Regions from separate parts of the Homo sapiens genome. Here region 1 is reported to be linked to region 2. Evidence: microRNA targets listed by miRTarBase, many of them from high-throughput screens and not tested one by one. Region 2 holds a microRNA gene; the other region holds the end of a gene's coding sequence.
Evidence for each region. Region 2 holds the annotated microRNA hsa-miR-4279 (CUCUCCUCCCGGCUUC, at 2,716-2,731, shown strand). A microRNA usually pairs through its seed, bases 2 to 8, with sites in the 3' UTR of a target mRNA and lowers its output. Matches are read on the target gene's strand: a 7mer-m8 pairs with bases 2 to 8, a 7mer-A1 pairs with bases 2 to 7 and ends in A, and an 8mer does both.

Region 1 (8,221 bases), not on the chromosome of region 2:
ACATCAGGCTGCCCCAGGGAGAAGCTGGGATGCCAGCGCCTTTGCCTCCTTGGAATTAGGTCACCGTCCAGAGGCCTGGGAGCCTCCAGTGTCCCGCGTGCCTCGTGCCCCTCCCCTAGCACCAAGCCTTTTCTGGCATGGGGAGGCAGCTGCAGTGGGAAAAGTGGGCCCCAAGTCAGAGGGGCAGGATTGCATGCCCTGTCACTGCTGCTGAACTTGGTTCCCCATCTATGCAAAATGAAGACAATGAGCAGGACATACCTGGCAGGACTATTTAAGGACTAAGTATGTCACCAGCCCGGGAGGTGATACGCCTGAGGCCTTTTCCCGTCCTCCCAGCCCCAGCCACCCCCTTCCACCTCCTCCCACCTGGGAAGGCAAGTTGTCCTTTTCAGAGAAAAGTGGAGCTGTCTTTGGCCCCCAGGAGCTTTTCTCAACATGAAATTTCTCCAGTTTTGTGACCTTAGGCCAAGAATTGCAGTATAGGAGGAGCCAGGGTTTCTCCACACTTGAAGTTTCTTGCTGTGGGCTCATTTCTACACTTTGAAGAGTGCCAGTGCCCTCTTCACAGCCTGAAGCCCCAAGCACTTGTTCCTCTGGCCCCTCTGCTCACCTGCCAGATCCCCCTAATTCCTCCTCCACCCCCCTACCCCATTCTGTGAGCCATGGGGCTCAGCCCCTCCCTCTCCTCCCATGGGCATCATGAAGACAGGGTTCTACCTGGCTCCTGCTGCAAAGGCCCTGGGTGGGGGAACACACTCCCAACACTGCACAGGACTGCCTCCCCACCCCCACGACCTTGTCCCTGGGCCACAGGCCTGCTTCAGTGTTCTTGCCCAATGAAAGCTGCCCTGACACTCTTTTAAACCCGATTCTGCTGAGGGTTGGGTTTCTTGGTTCCAGGATTTTTTTTTTTTTTTAACCACAGCTGGCACCCTGGCCAGTTCTAAAACAGCCCTGAACTTCCTATTCCACTCCTCAGTTGTGCCCAGCTAGAGTCCCTTGGCTTCTTCTCTCCTGGTCATAAACCTTGTCCAGGGCTTTTCTTTTGCCAAAGGACGGTCTGGAGGCTTCTGCATCTACCCTGGCTGTCACCCTAACCCGTGGCCTCCCCAGCCTTTCCTCTGGCATGCCCACCACCAGCACCCCACTCCCTGGTCCTGCCCATGGCTAGTGAGGGTCAAGTGAGTGTCCAGCCGAGAATTTAGCAACTCAGAGTGAGAGAAGCTTTAGCTTTGCTTTTTAGTAAGTTAAGACTGACACATGGCCATCCACTCCCAAAGAGTCCCAGCCCTCCAGGCAGCACTGAGGCCCAGGCAGATGGCCCAGCCGCGCTCTGCAGCTTCCCTGCTGCCCACCCACCCACCTGCCCACCGACAGCACCGCCAGGAGGTCTGGGCAGAAAGCATGCAGCTGTGATGGCCAGGCACCTGCCGCAGCCCTGTCTCCAAGCTGGACAGAACTAAGATGGAGGCTGCCACAGGTCAGGTTGCAGCAACTCTTGCCTCCACCTGGGCAGAGGCAGCGGCCGGGGTGGCATGGGGCTGGTCTGGCCGGTCCCACTAGCTGGATCCTGGCTACCACAGTAGCACGTCCTGAAATTGGTCTTTGTTGTTGTTGTTGTTGTTTTCAACTTTATGTATAAAAAAATTTTCCTAGAAATTTTTAATATTCTGGCTACCAGATAACATCTCCCAGAATTCCCACACCCCGAAGGGGCATAAAACTCCTGCCAGACCACACGTTCTGATTTTGGTTTGGCATATATGGTCAATGGCTGTAAGGCTGGTATTCCGGGACACTTTGCCCATTTCTGGATAAAGGGCAAGGGCAGTGAATGGAGTAGGGAGGAACGTGGCTGAAATAGGGAAGGGTCAAGGCCAATATGGACATGTGCTTTCTTTGGTTCCACAGTGTTGGAGGCTGTAGCCTTTGACCAGGCATGGGACCAGGAGGTGAGGCCGGCTCTCAGGCATCAACCAAAGGATCCACTGAATCTCCCTTCTCCCCCTGCCAACAAAGGTACAAGTAGATGTTGACACCCCCTCAGACATGGAAGGAGACCCATTTTTTTCTTTTTCTAGTTCTGGATAAATGGCCTTAAACAAAATATGCAAACAGGCTCCTTGCGTCTCCCAAAGGCAGCCCACCACAGAAGCCCTGCCACAGCCCAAGGGGTTAGATGCTGCCAGGATCTGTTTCCGCCACAGAGCAGCTCTGTGCAGCACGTTCCTGCCAACCACCCTGAGTGCTTCAGGGCTTCCGAGGCCGTGACAGTGAGGGCAGCGGCACTTCTGGGTCACCGTGGGACAGGTCTCTGCCTCAGGACACGGATTGACAAGCTCTCTGAGTGGGCCAGGAGCTCCTTAATGTGAGCCAAGCCCAGCCCTGCCACCTTGGCCCCGTTCACCTCGAGGATCTCATCGCCCACCCCCAGCAGCCCTGAGTACAGCTTGGCCATGCTCATGTCAGCCATCTCCTGCACGTAGATCCCTGCAGAGGAAAACAGGAGAATTTCACAATGACACCCAAATCGAAGAAGTGCATCTCTGGAATGCTGACCATGTTGATGAGGTGCTGTTTGTGTGGCACAGGGAGGAGGTGCTCATACCAGGCACTTCTCTGTGCGCATGCACACATACACACACCCCTCATTATTCCATCTCACAACCACAACTGGCTTTAGACATAGATACAGTGCGCCTCCTCCATGGTCTAACTCCATTCCACTGTCTCTGCTTTTAAAGTGGAAATGCTCCTAGTGCAAATAACGCGTTAAACTGTTGTCATTTATTTATACCTGACAGTGAGTGAGCTAATCTTTTTCTGAGATGAGCTTTTCTTGTAGAATTGGGAGGAAAATAGTTTTTAAAAATTAGGAACCATACCTACTCAGTGCCTGGCACTATGATCCAGTTGCTGCCTCAGGTCACCCAGGCCCAGCGTAAAGGCCGGGGTGGTGGGAAGGTATCATCGGAAGAGCAAAAGTGGCTGAGCCACATCCAAGCCTGGTTTGCTGCACTCTATTGCCAAAGACTGACACTGGCCTCAGTCTTACTCAGATATGGCTCCTCAATTGGGATGGGGAAGCATCTGAGCAAAAAACCCCAGGAAAAATAAAAATTCTAGCCACATATTTCAAAGCTGCGGTGGCTCCCTCTCCTCTTCTGCACATGCCCCCTCCTCCCCACCCCAAAGAGGCCCTGCCTGGGTCTAGAAGGTGCCAAGAGCCAGCCTGCGGGAACTAGCTTCTCTGCTTCTTTGCCAGGCTCCGGCTCTCAGGGAGCCCCCCGTCAGTGGGGCAGGCCCTGTGGGGCTTGGGCTGGCTGGGCTGGGAAGTGTCCAGCTGAGGAGGCCCCCTGCCCCCAACCCCCGCCCGCCGGCCTCAACCGCGGCTGGAAACCTTTCAAATTCCCCTCCAGCTGCTCCCACCTGGGAGAGTAAGTGAGGTGCTGGCTCTCCCAGGGCAGGCTGGACCCCCTGATGCCCATGCTTCATGCTGGGTGGACACAGGGGCTGAGACACAAGCTGAGTTTGCTGGAGGGACTGCGGGGCACACCCCTGGTGTGGGCATCAGCACTGGCGGAATTCAGGCTGCTCAGCGCAGCCTTTGGCACCCTCGCTGTTCGCAGCCCAGCTCGGCTCACTCTGCATTTCAGACATGAGGCCACTGCCCACGCGTTACTGTCTTCACTTCCTTTTCCTCGAATCAGGTTCTTAGCAGGGGCCCGAAAGGGCATCAGGTCTGCTCCTCAATCTCTGGCTTGAAACTAGTCACCACATCTTGGACTAGTGGGAAGTCCTCTCTCGGATCCCCCAGCCCCGTAGGAGCTTTGGGCAGCCCAGCCTGTGGCCCTGACAGAAGTCAGGCGTTTTAAAGCCTGCCTCTGAAGTGTGGGTTTGAAAGAGCACTGATCTTCACCGAAGTACCTGAAAGTCTGTGGCTCTGAATTTAGTAAATCCAATCTTTGTACACATTCCCCCTCCCTGGTCTGAGGTGTAGAATCCCTTTTGTTGCTTCTTGGCCAAGCCGAGCCTTTTCTGTGGGGCTGTCTTCCCTGACAGAGTACATCTGCCATCCTGACTGTACAAGGCGTTTTCCCTCAGCCCTGTCTTTTACCTCCTCTAGATGGACCTTTCACTGCTTGCCCTCCCTGTCTACGGGTTGGTGGCACGGGGAGGGGGCAGGTAAGAAGGGGCCCCTGGGGCAAACCCAGAGAAGTGTCTGATGTGCTGTGGGAGTTGCAGGTGGGGACTAATGATAAACCCTGAAAGAATGCTGCCAGAGCTAGGCCAGACACTGACGTCACGCCTGCCATTTTGGGGAGACTCGGGTAGGTTTCGCAACTGAAATTCGTGACACAAATATGACAGCCTGCTGTCATAGGCATTTATTGTCTGCTGGAAATGGCCTTTGTTGAGGATGTGTGATCTCTATGTTGTATCCAATTAGAAGCAGAAGGCAAAGCCTGCTGTTCTCACAGGCTCATATAGAGTCGGATGTGAAAGCCAGCAAGTTAATACCAGCATCCTGCCGGTTCAGTGCGGGGCGCAAGCCAGCCCTCCTCACAGCCCCTTGGAGCCTGGAAGAAGCGACCCTCTGCTGTTGGAGGATGGCCTGGGACACGGAGGCCCCAGCACTCGCCAGGCTTCATGTGCGTGGGGACCCCTGTGTGCCATCCAGCGCCCATGATGGCAGCAGGACCAGGGAGTGCCTGGGCACAACGGGGAGCTGGCACCAACTCAGGCGAGGGTGCCGGGGGCCCTGGGTCACTAGAGACCCCTGCCCATCAGAGCTCCCTGACGGGTGACAGGGAGGGGCTCCCACTGCCTACAAGGGAGCAAAAAGGGACTCTGGGGGAGGGTGGGCGGCAGAGTACAATGACCTGTTGTGTGTGCACTCACATCGACAGGTGAATGCGGATCACGCTGGTCCCTGTCTGGGGTTCTCTTCCCCAGACTTTCTCTTTCTGAAGGGGAGGGAAGAAAAATGCTAGGCCCTTTCCTGTGTGCCTTACCAAATGCTCCTTATGACTCTTCTAGGTAGGTTTTGTCATCCTCATTTCACAGATTAGGGAACTGAGTGAGGCTCAGTGGGGATGTCGCCTGCTCTAGATCACATAGCCAGCAGAGGTGCCGGAGCACAAACATGCTGCGTTGTCTGCCTCTGCCTTCACACCACCTGTCCGGGGGGCCTGTCCTGCTCCCCTAACGGGAGAGGAGGCTACGGGAAGGCCTGTGAGGAAGGACTTTTTATCCTCCTGAGGTCCAGAGTAGGCAGAGACCTGTCCTCTCTTCCTCTTACATGTCCAGCTCATCAGCAAATAGTCAAATCAACCAGAATCCAACCCCTGTCCCCTCTCCCCTCTCCCCATCTCCACAGCCGTTCCCAGTCCAGGCACCACTGTCTCTGTCCTGGACTGCTGAAATAGCTTCAACACAGGGCTCCCTGGCTCCACCCGTGTCCCACTGGGGTCTATTCTCATAGACATTAGAGAGTCTCAGTGCTCGCTCCGAGCCCTCTAGTGGCTCCCATCTCATTCGGCATGAAAGCCAAAGCCCCTTACAGTGGCACAACCCCATCTTTCCAAACTCTGCTCCTCCCAACCCGTTGCCTGCTCTGCAGTGTCCAGCCTGACCCTCACAGTTCTCACAGGCCAGGCTCGCCCCTCCACCAGGGCTCCGCACTTGCTGTTCAGTCTGCCGGAATGCTCTTCCCCAGACACCCATGGGGCCCCTTCCTCGCCCCATCCACGGCCCTGCTCAAGTGTCATCTTCTCAGAAAAGCCTCCCCACACTCCTGTCTATACCAGCACCTGCCACACCTGCTTTATCTGTCTGTTTCTCAGAACTTTCTTTTCACCATCTGACATACGTAGCACATTATACATAACAAGAGTACACATTTTATAGATACAATCTAACTGCTCACTGGGTAGTATATTCATGAGGATAGGGATTTGGTCTGTTCCATTTACTGCTGTATCCCCCGTATCTATAACACATAGTAGGTGCTTAGTATATATTTGCTGAAACAATGATGGAACAGACATGAGAACTCATGCTGTGGTCTGCAAATGTGGTAGCAGGCAGACTTTTTTCCAGGCTAAACAGCATTGAGCTAGGAGATCAAAGCACAGGACTCAACCCCCCATCGGCAGAGCCCGGCCGCAGCAGGCTTCTGTGTTCGTCTTTCTGTATCTGTCTCTCCCTTTCTCTCTCCTTCCTTCCCCTCCCCTCCTTCCCCACCCTCACATACGTGTCTTCCTTCCCTGATCCTCTGGGGAATGTCTTTTATGGGCCCTTGAGATGCATTCTGGACCACAGACCTTGGGCGTGGGCTTTTGCAAGTCACGTTGCCCTGAAAGACTCATGGATGGGGTGGAACTGAGAACTGGTCAGAGTGCAGAATGATGTCCAGGACTTCTCCCTGCCATTGCCTGGGTTGAATTGAGACCCAGAGCACACCCCAGTCAGAGGCCTGCAGCCAGGATTCATCTGAACATAATCATCGGGCACAGGCCTGAGGGAGGGACGGGATGCAGAGACAGACAGGCATGCTCCACGTGCCCAGACATACTCCACAGCCGGAGGAAAGGAACCGTTTCAACGCAGCCACATCAAAGGGACTGCTGAGAACCAGCAGGCACAGACAGTTTCCCTCTGGCTCTCCTCTGCAAAGATGGCCTTCAAAATTCTAATTTATTTATTTCTTTTTTTTTTTCCTTTGAGATGAAGTTTTGCTCTTGTTGCCCAGGCTGGAGTGCAATGGCGCAATCTCGGCTCACTGCAACCTCTACCTCCCGGGTTCAAGCAATTCTCCTGCCTCAGCCTCCCAAGTAGCTGGGATTATAGGCATGCGCCACCACGCCCAGCTAATTTTGTATTTTTAGTAGACATGGGTTTCACCATGTGGGCCAGACTGGTCTCGAACTCCTGACCTCAGGTGATCCAGGCGCCTCGGCCTCCCAAAGTTCTGGGATTACAGGCATGAGCCACTGCGCCCGGCCTAAGCTTCTAATTTCAAGATGTCATCAGACAGCAGGGGGACAGTGGAGTCAAACCTGCCAACTCTACCCCCTCCCGCACACTCCCCACCAACGCACTCTCAGCTGCAGTTGCCTAGGGCAAAGGCTCTGCAGGTGCAGACTCCTAGAGAGCCCTGGACAATTCAGAAAGAGCCCCTGAGGGGAGAAGCCTAGTCCTGTAGTCAGAGGCTTTCTGAATTCCCAGAGCTGCACGGCTCAGCCAAAGACCAGAAAAGCCTCTGACCACAGCCAGAAGGCCCTGCCTTGTTTGCTAAGGCCGCCCCAGCCATGGGGCTGAGGAAGAGGAGAGGGCATACCTGAGTCTGGGCGCCCATTCCCAGAGGCCACGCAGAAGCCGAAAGTGCCCCCTGGGGAGCGCTGCAGCTGCAGCTGGCTGGTGCCGTCTGGGAACACCTCCACCAGGCGGCCCACGGTGCGAGCCAGGCTGGGAGCACCCACGTCCTCCACACTGAGGGCACGCCGTGGTGAAGTCTTGGCCGGCCTGCGAGGGAACCAGAGACACAGTGAGGGCAAAAAGCATCAGGCACTGGGCACAGCTCTTCCCTGGCTTACAGATGACCGATGCCTCACAGACTTAAGAGCCTGGCATTGGAGGCTGGGGTTCTGCTGACTTCAGCCAGCAAAAAGAGCCTGCTAGGGCCAAAACTGGTGGGTTTCCGCCGCTGTGCAAGGCCCCCCAAGGCCTGCTGTGGAACTAGAAACCCCACCCTCCCAAAGCAGTGGTTTCAAATTTTGGGGGGTACAGAGACCTTTGTAAGAATCTGACAAAAGGTATAACTTTATGTCACATTTCCAGGAGCTAACATACACCCTGAAGTACATCCACGCCCCAGGAAAGAGCAGCCAGCCTACAGGGCCTCATCGGACAGGGTGGGATTTTCCAAGCAGGTCATGGGTCACGGGCCTCTTTGGGGGCCTCTGTCTCTATGTGTTTATTCAGATCTTTAGCTGGGCTAAGAAAACTCTCTAAACTTTCTGATTTCAAGATGTCATTGCACAGCAGAGGGACAGTGGAATCAAACCGGCCAACTCTACCCCCTCCAGCGACCCCAGGCCTTCTCAGAGCCCAATGCACCGAGGGTCCATGCAGGGCACTGAGGTGCTGAGACTCCCGTGGCAGCCTCGTCTCCACACATCACATGTCCTGTTGCTTTCCCTTCAAAGGACCCTGC
Region 2 (8,221 bases):
AGAAATGACATAACAATGAAATACTGTGCTGGGTAGAGGAGCACTGCATGTTCAGAGGTAAGGTTGGAGGGCCTACAGTAAGCTTTCTTAGAGGGCAATAAAGAAACATTGTTCTAAATATGAGAAAACATGGTATTCAGCTGTCTTTTTTTTATAATTGCAAAAAACATCTTTTTTTTTTCCAAAGTGGCAACACCAAATGCTCTCAGATTGTGGAAGTCTAGCCAGCATTCAGTATGCAAAAGAGAAAGAAGTGAATGACTTGTGTGAATTACCAGAGTTTTGGTCCCCAATGGGTTCTTCCAGTAGGGCACACAGTCAATACATGGCTGGACTCATAGGTGTCTTTTCCAGCAGGTTCATAAACCAGGAAAGAGGGTGAAAATCCAACCACAGGCACATAGTTCATCTAATATTTCTTTACTATTGTTGGGACCCTGCAGAAAAGCTTCAACTTCCTAACTCCTGAATCTACCCATTTGGAGGCGATGGCACCAATACAGACTAAGAAACTAAAATCAGTTTCCCAAACAAGAGCCCATTCAAATTGCTGAGGGCTTAACTTGCTGCATCAACCCACTGATCACATTATTCACCAATGATATTAAAAAATCAACAGGTCAAGGTGGAGTGCTGGGAGCAGTGGCTCACACCTGTAATCCTAGCACTTTGGGAGGCCGAGGTGGGCAGATCACTTGAGGTCAAAAGTTTGACACCAATCTGGCCAACAGAGTGAAACTCTGTCTCTAAATGGGGGCGGAAATCAACAGACCAACCAGCAAACCAGCAAATGTTTTTTTCTAAAGATCGGATAGGCTTTGTGGGTCACTATCTCTGTCCTATATTCTTCTTTGTTTCTTCAACTCTTCAAAACATAAAACACATTCTTAGCTCCCAGGCCATACAAAAACAGGCTAGGGCAGTCTGGATTTGCCTAAGGGCCATAGCTTGCTGAACACCGCTTCCAGCAGGAACCCTGGGAAGGAACCTGTCCCCAACACAGCTTCTAAGTCACTGCAGATAGCACCTGGGACAGATCAGTCTGAAGGATGGGAGACAAAGGGGACACACACAACAGGTGAACAGTAGGCAAGAAAGGACAAGAGTTGGGGTGGCGACGGTAGGAACATGGGGTGAAAAAGTTTTCTAAAAGACCACAGGAGGTGCCGTTCCTCCTCCCATAGAAGGCTAGCTGTGTAATGCTGAGAAATCACACGGAAAGAGAGACTAGCAATGATGTGTGGGCTTGCTTGACTAAACACAGCCATCCCCCAGCCCTCCAGGACTAAAATGCAAAGCCACAAAACGTGGCCACCACGGCATGAGGATGACCACAGCATGAGGATGCCAGCCAGGCAGTAAGCAGTAACCCAAGCAGCTCCCAATTTTGCCTTTTCAGACACACCCCTGTGGCTACGGGGCATTCTCCAAACCTCAACGCAAACAGTTCCAGGATTCAGGCTGGGCTATTCTACCGAAACAAAATTCTCCACCTACCTCTGACGTTCTTCTCAGGCTGACCACACGCACCATTTCTATCCAACCTCCTCCATGTTAGCCCAATCCCCCAACACCCTGGCCACTTCATTAGTGAGGGAAAACATGTCAGATCATCCCAGTGCCCAGGAGAAGCAAGGCCTAGAAATGATTCAGAACCTGGGGCTGGAGATGATCTTTATTCTGTTCTACTTCTCTTATCACAAGCCCCAAACCTTGACAACGGAAGGAACACCCTGAGACTCGGCTACAATCATGGGAATCAAAAATCAGTTTTAAAATTATCCTTGCATGTGGCTGCCACCCATGGTCCTCCCCATTTATTTTCTACTTCTGAGTGTGAAACGTCACTGTGACAGTTTCCAACCCTCTGCACTCCCCCCACTCCATGACAAATATTCAGGATTCACACTTCACTTTCACACTGCTTTCCAATCCCTTGACTTAGAAGCCGAGCAGAGGCAGCCTGCCTTAATGGAGAAAACATTAGTGCATTCGGGCTTCACTCTGGATCCCAGTCAATTTCTGGATATTTCACAGCTGTTATACATCCACCTCCTTTCTTACAAAAGCCAGCAAAAATTAGTGAGCACCTCGTTGGCTCTGAAATATGAAAATGGAGCCACAGTCAAGCCTGAAAATCGGTTTCTGGTTGACTCCCTTCAAAGTATTTGTTCTAAAACACAGTGTCTGCAGTTCATTTATCATCTGCCAATTTTTAAATGAGTTTAAATTAAAAAAGCTTCAATGCTGCATGCTTTTTTTCTTTTTTTTTTTTTAAAGCAACTCTCAGAATAAAACTGTCATTTGGTCATCACACTAGTAACTGAGAGAACTCTTGCTTGGGCAGATATCAGCACAATTCAAGCTGAGTCTTTTATGTTATTATTACCTGCTCATCTCTCATATAATTAAAAAATAATAAACCCTTGGAAGACCTGTAAGTTGTGTTCAGAGAGAAAATGTGATTCTCTTCACCACTCAGGTCTCCCGTCCTACCTGCTTTATGAGCTGGTCAGGTGAGCGTGCTCTGCTGTGCTTCAGCAGCCTCTGGAATGGGACAGACTCCAAAGTTGGTTGTGCTTCACTTCCCTTCTCCATTCAGGTCTTTAAAGTCCTGGGTTATTAACTATCAACAAAAATACAAGCTGCGCCATGCGTGCTCCAACTTCCTGCCAGCTCCCCATGCTCTGTGGAGCTGAGGAGCAGATTCTCTCTCTCTCCTCCCGGCTTCACCTCCTGAGCTCCAGAGCCCCACCCACCCACAGCACTCAGATCATTTTTCATTTATGAATGCATCCAGCCACGCTGTGTTTGTAAGAGAAGGAGCCAATCCTTGCCCTGCCAGTGTATTGGAACCAGGCTGCTATAAACGGTTCTAATTTTCCAGGAGTATGGGGGGAAATCATATCCCAGCAGACATCATGCATGGCTTCCTCCTGCAGGTATCTGCAGATCAGCTCTTCCATCACCAAAGGACGCACACTTGGCCACGGACCACAGCTGCTTCATTCTACAGACTGCCAGGGAGGAGGACTGAAGATTTCAGGCAGGAGAAAACCAAAATACTATCAAAATGTGTACTTCACATAACTAAAAATGTGAAGCTAGGATGATCAGTGAAGAAACTTTCCACTCAGTGACCTGATATTTCACAATACATTTAATCTGTCTTGCACTTATTAAAGGGCCAGATTTTTTTTTAAATTGCATCCAAATGCAAACAAAAATCAAGGGGTTAAATTATTTTATAAAGAAGTCTGTTGGGAAATAAAAGCCATTTGTCTTGATGACACCAAATTTACAACTTTTCTACTCCGACTAAGCTTCCAACTTCCATTGTAGACAAGTACTAGCAAAACCAGAAATTATCAGTCAGCCCTTGAGTTGCTGAAAAAATCCTCAACTTTTAAACACAATATGATTTTTCTAAGGTTTTATCAGGAAATAGAATGTTAAAAAATAGGCTTCCCTAAACCAACACACATATATAGTAGTTTCTATTATGGGTAAAATTTGCCTTGTTTTACAGCTGAAGCCAAAGGGGTCTTTCATGATCCAACAGCCAGAGACAAAGATTCCAAAAACCTTTGGTGCAGGTATAAAAATGTACATGTGCAACTTAAATGGGAATGACATTTTATTATTCCAATACTCACAAGGTCCTTTGTTAGCTATACTTGTAAGGAACAAAATAGGAGCAAACATCCTCTGTTTACTTCTTGCAGCCATTCTATTTTCTTTCTTTTTTTTTTTTTGAGACAGGGTCTGGCTCTGTTGCCCAGGTGGGAGTGCAGTGGAGTAATCTCGGCCCACTGCAACCTCCATCTTCCGGGTTCAAGAGATTCTCCTGCCTCAACCTCCTGGAGTAGCTGGGATTACAGGCGCCCGCCACCATGCCCAGATATTTTTTGTATTTTTAGTAGAGATGGGGTTTCACCATGTTGGTCAAGCTGGTCTCAAACTCCTGGTCTCAAGTGATCTGCCCATCTCGGCCTCCCAAAGTTCTGGGATTACAGGTGTGAGCCACCACTGCTGGCCAGATTTTTGGTGTTTTTTAGTATATTCATTTATTTTAGAGTTTTATCCAGTATAAATTTTTCCCCTAGGAGCCTTGTATTGACATAACCTAGTTCCAGTCACAGTGAGACATTTTTGAAATTGCTTCTAAATTTTCCATGTATTAAAAAACTGGTGGTCTAGTATCCGGACTTAAGTCTTTTTTTTTTTTTTTTTTTAATTAGATGGTTCAAATGTCTCCTAAACAGAAAATGCTATACATTTTCTCATGTGCTCCAAATGGATTCTAGCCATCCCAATACCCTAACACATTCTTGAAAACAAAAACAGGATCCGCCTTTTACTGATGAGATAAAGAAGACAGAAAGTCACTAGTATATATGATGTTTCCCTGGTGCGGCAGAGAAAGAACTAATGGGAGGATTAGTTCCTAGTCTCCAAACACCAGCAGGGAGCCCCAGGCAAGTCCACATTTTTTGTGTGCATTCAAGAGGCCTGAAAGTTGATCGTGTGGGTAACTTCCTGGAACTCACCTTCCTAGTTCAGGAAAGCGTGGACTCCTGCTCACAGTTCAAGCTAAGGAGAAGGAAGTCTGCTCTTTAGCTTTTTTTTCTTTTAAAAGAAGTGAGGGAAAAAGATTAAAATTGCCTTGGCCTGTGACCAAACTGCAGTCCTAACAAGAGGTAAAATTTGCCTATAAAATATTCCTGACAGTATTAGTTGGTGACATCTGCCAAAAATCTATGGTAAAACCAGTTATCCTGCCTCTCTTTGTCCCATTCTCTCAACGAAGGGTGGATAATATATAACATATAGTTTTGCTTTAAGGGGAATTACTGCTACATTTACTCACAAAACGAGCCACGTAGCATACACCAGAATTCAGCAAGTACACAAGCCACCTAACCGACCCAAGTTTCTGAATTGCATTATCCATGACAGGCATCTGGGGCTCTGCCTTCTTCGTGTCCACCTTGGTTCCTTGGTCACTGGGCTTAGGAGACCACTGTGCACTCACTGTCCATCACCCGGGAGGGACCCTGAAGATCACTGAGTTCTACTTTCTCATTGCGTTCGTGTGGAAACAGAGGCCCACAGGAACATGAGGAAGCTTTCCAACATCACAGGGCACATTAGTGGAAGTACTGAGGTTACAACGTAAATCTTCCTGATTCAAACTCTAAGATGGTGCCAAGGGGACAAGGTGTGGATCTTTGTAGGCAGGGGCTCAGTAATGGCTGTCCAGCGGGTCACAAAGCCCAGCCTAGGGACACACCTAAGATTCTCCCAGAAGCTAAAACAGAAAGGTAACAAAGAGGGCAATCCCAGAAATCCCCAGCAGGAGTCGATCATACAGCAAAAGCCAAGGGACACCCCAGGTATAAACCCAAGAACCGAAAGCAGACACACGAATGGATATTCACACCCTCGATATTTGTAGCAGCACTGTCCACTCAATAACCAAAAGGTGGAAGCCATCTAAGCATCCACTGATGGATGAATGGATACAGAAAATGTGATACATATGTACAATGGAATACTATTCAGCCGTAAAAAGGAAGGAAATTCTGACACATGCTACTACTTGGATGAGTTTTGAAAAGAAACTATGCTGGCCGGGCGCAGTGGCTCATGGCCTGTAATCCTAGCACTTTGGGAGACCGAGGTGGGTGGATCACTTGAGGTCAGGAGTTCGAGACCAGCCTGGCCAACATGGTGAAACCCCGTCTCTACTAAAAATACAAAAATTGGCCAGGCGTGGTGGCACACATCTGTAATCCCAGCTACTCGGGAGGATGAGGCATGAGAATCACTTGAACCCTGGAGGCAGAGGTTGCAGTGAGCCGAGATTGCACCATAGCACTCCAGCCTGGGCAACAAGAGCGAAACTCTGTCTTAAAAACAAGAAAAAAAAAAAAAGGACACTATGCTAAGTGAAATAAGCCAGTTATAAAAGGACAAACCCTATATGATTTTAATCGTATGAGGCACTCAGAATAGTAAAATTCACAGAGACAGAAAGTAGAATGGTGGTTGCCAGGGGCTGGGGAGAGGAGGAATGGGAAGTTACTGCTTAATGGATCCAGAGTTTCAGTTTTGCAAGAGGAAAAGCCTTCTGGAGATGGATAGTGGTGATGGTTACACAACAGTGTGAATGTACTTAATGCCACAAAACTATACATTTAAATTTATTAAAATGAGAACTTTTATATTAAGTGTGTGAAGTCAATGGAGCCTGGATTTTCTTTCTTTCTTTCTTTCTTTCTTTCTTTTTTTGAGGCAGAGTCTTGCTCTGTCGCCCAGGCTGGAGTGCAGTGGTGCAATCTTGGCTCACTGCAGCCTCCGCCTCCTGGGTTCCAGCGATTCTCCTGCCTCAGCCTCCCGGGTACCTGGGATTACAGGCACACGCCACCACGCCTAGCTAATTTTTGTATTTTTAGTAGAGACGGAGTTTCACCATGTTGGCCAGGCTGGTCTCGAACTCCTGACCTCAGGTGATCTGCCTGCCTCGGCCTCCTAAAGTACAAGGATTACAGGCATGAGCCACTGCACCCGGTTTGGTTTTCTTTACATTTTCTCATTGGCCAGTTCTATGGCTATCATGCTTCATATGCTTGATGTCACAAAATGAAAAGACCATAAAATGCAATTCATAAATGGTCTTAAAAACAACAGGAAGCACTAACATTTCCTTCTCCCCTTTTCCCATCCCCCAGTCAAAAATCACACACAGAAAGTTATGAAAGCAAACAAGGTTTGTTTTCCTGCCCCTTGATGGGAGATGATAATGTCAGCACTGATGGGGAACACCCTGCCAATTGTGCAAGCGGGGAGGACCTTGGCCTGCAAATTTGGGGAGGCAGCTCCCTTCCAACTTCTGCCATTAATGGAAAGGGTTCAGAATCACACCTGAGAAAGCTCCGTGCGGCTGTGGCCCACCCCTCCCCTCCCATCCAGCCCTCCTGGAGTTCACACACCCTCAACTCACACAACGCCGGCAGCATACACTGACACCATCATGCTCTGGGGCCTTCATTGTATACAGATCTGTTTCTTAGCTGTCAAATCTGTCCCATGAGCCATAAGCCTCTAGTGGACAGAGCTGCCTCCAGCTCTCTGGCCCCCTTTTCAGTCTCATTCCTCCTGCCAGGCCAGGGTGGGCCTTGGAGGGGTACCAGCTTCTTCGTTCCTCCCTCCTGTCACCTGGATTATCCCATCTACTTCCATAGCTACAGCAACCAAGTAAGAGCCACCAGCTCCTCAATCTCCATCTCTCTTCTGAGCTCAGACCCTCAACTCCTGCCCAGCTGCAGCTGGGTGTCCTGCAGCCACCTCAAACTCAGCCTGCCCTAAAAAATCTACTATGCGGCCAGGCACAGCGCCTCACGCCTGTAATTCCAGTACTTTGGGAGGTCAAGGCAGGTGGATCACTTGATGTCAGGAGTTCGAAACCAGTCTGGCCAACATGGTGAAACCCCGTCTCTACTAAAAATACAAAAATTAGCCAGGCATAGTGGTGTACGCCTGTCATCCCAGCTACTCAGGAGGCTGAGGCAGGTGGATCACTTGATGTCAGGCGTTCGAAACCAGCCTGGCCAACATGGTGAAACCCCATCTCTACTAAAAATACAAAAATTAGCCAGGTGTGGTGGTACGTGCCTGTAATCCCAGCTACTCAAGAGGCTGAGACAGGAGAATTGCTTGAACCCAGGAGGCAGAGGTTGCAGTGAGCTGAGATCGCGCCACTATACCCCAGCCTGGGCAAAAGAGTGAGACCCTGCCTCAAATAAACAATCCCATTATGCTCTCCCTCAGACAGGTTCCCCCTCCTGTATCTCCTCTTCCAACTCATGCCAATGAGTTCCCTGTCACTGAAGCACAACTGAGTCGCCCTTGGCTCCTCTCTCCCCTCCACCCTTGCTGGTAGGTCCTGTCAACTCCACTTCTTCAGTCTCTCTCACTCCTGACCTCAAGTGATCCACTAGCCTTGGCCTCCCAAAGTACTGGGATTACAGGCCTGAGCCACCGCGTCTGGTCGCATAGTGGGTTTTTTAGGGCATGCCAAGTTTGAGGTCCCCTTCTGCTGTACTGAGTCACACCTTAGGGCCTTGACTCTAGACTACTCTCACCTCCTCAGTTGTCTACCCCTAAAGTATATCCTGCACACAGAGGTATCCAGTGGCAAATACATAACATCTGCTTG

Region 1: the mRNA of KIAA1614 is a reported target of hsa-miR-4279. Seed matches in the 3' UTR shown: 7mer-A1 at 6,818-6,824, 7mer-m8 at 6,669-6,675 and 7mer-m8 at 3,159-3,165.

What each region holds. Positions count from the first base shown.
Region 1 is chr1:180,944,612-180,952,832 of GRCh38, reverse strand. KIAA1614 reads right to left here. Exons shown (of 9, transcript NM_020950.2): 9 at 1,219-7,530. The coding sequence ends at 7,245. KIAA1614-AS1 (KIAA1614 antisense RNA 1) reads left to right here. Exons shown (of 2, transcript NR_145481.1): 2 at 1,915-3,143. Among named protein-coding and RNA genes, the nearest start is that of KIAA1614-AS1, 6.2 kb to the left of the region's middle. RefSeq lists an enhancer at 2,858-3,408.
Region 2 is chr5:31,930,622-31,938,842 of GRCh38, reverse strand. MIR4279 (microRNA 4279) reads left to right here and starts at 2,684; the gene lies at 2,684-2,741. The region is part of intron 2 of PDZD2 (PDZ domain containing 2); the gene reads right to left.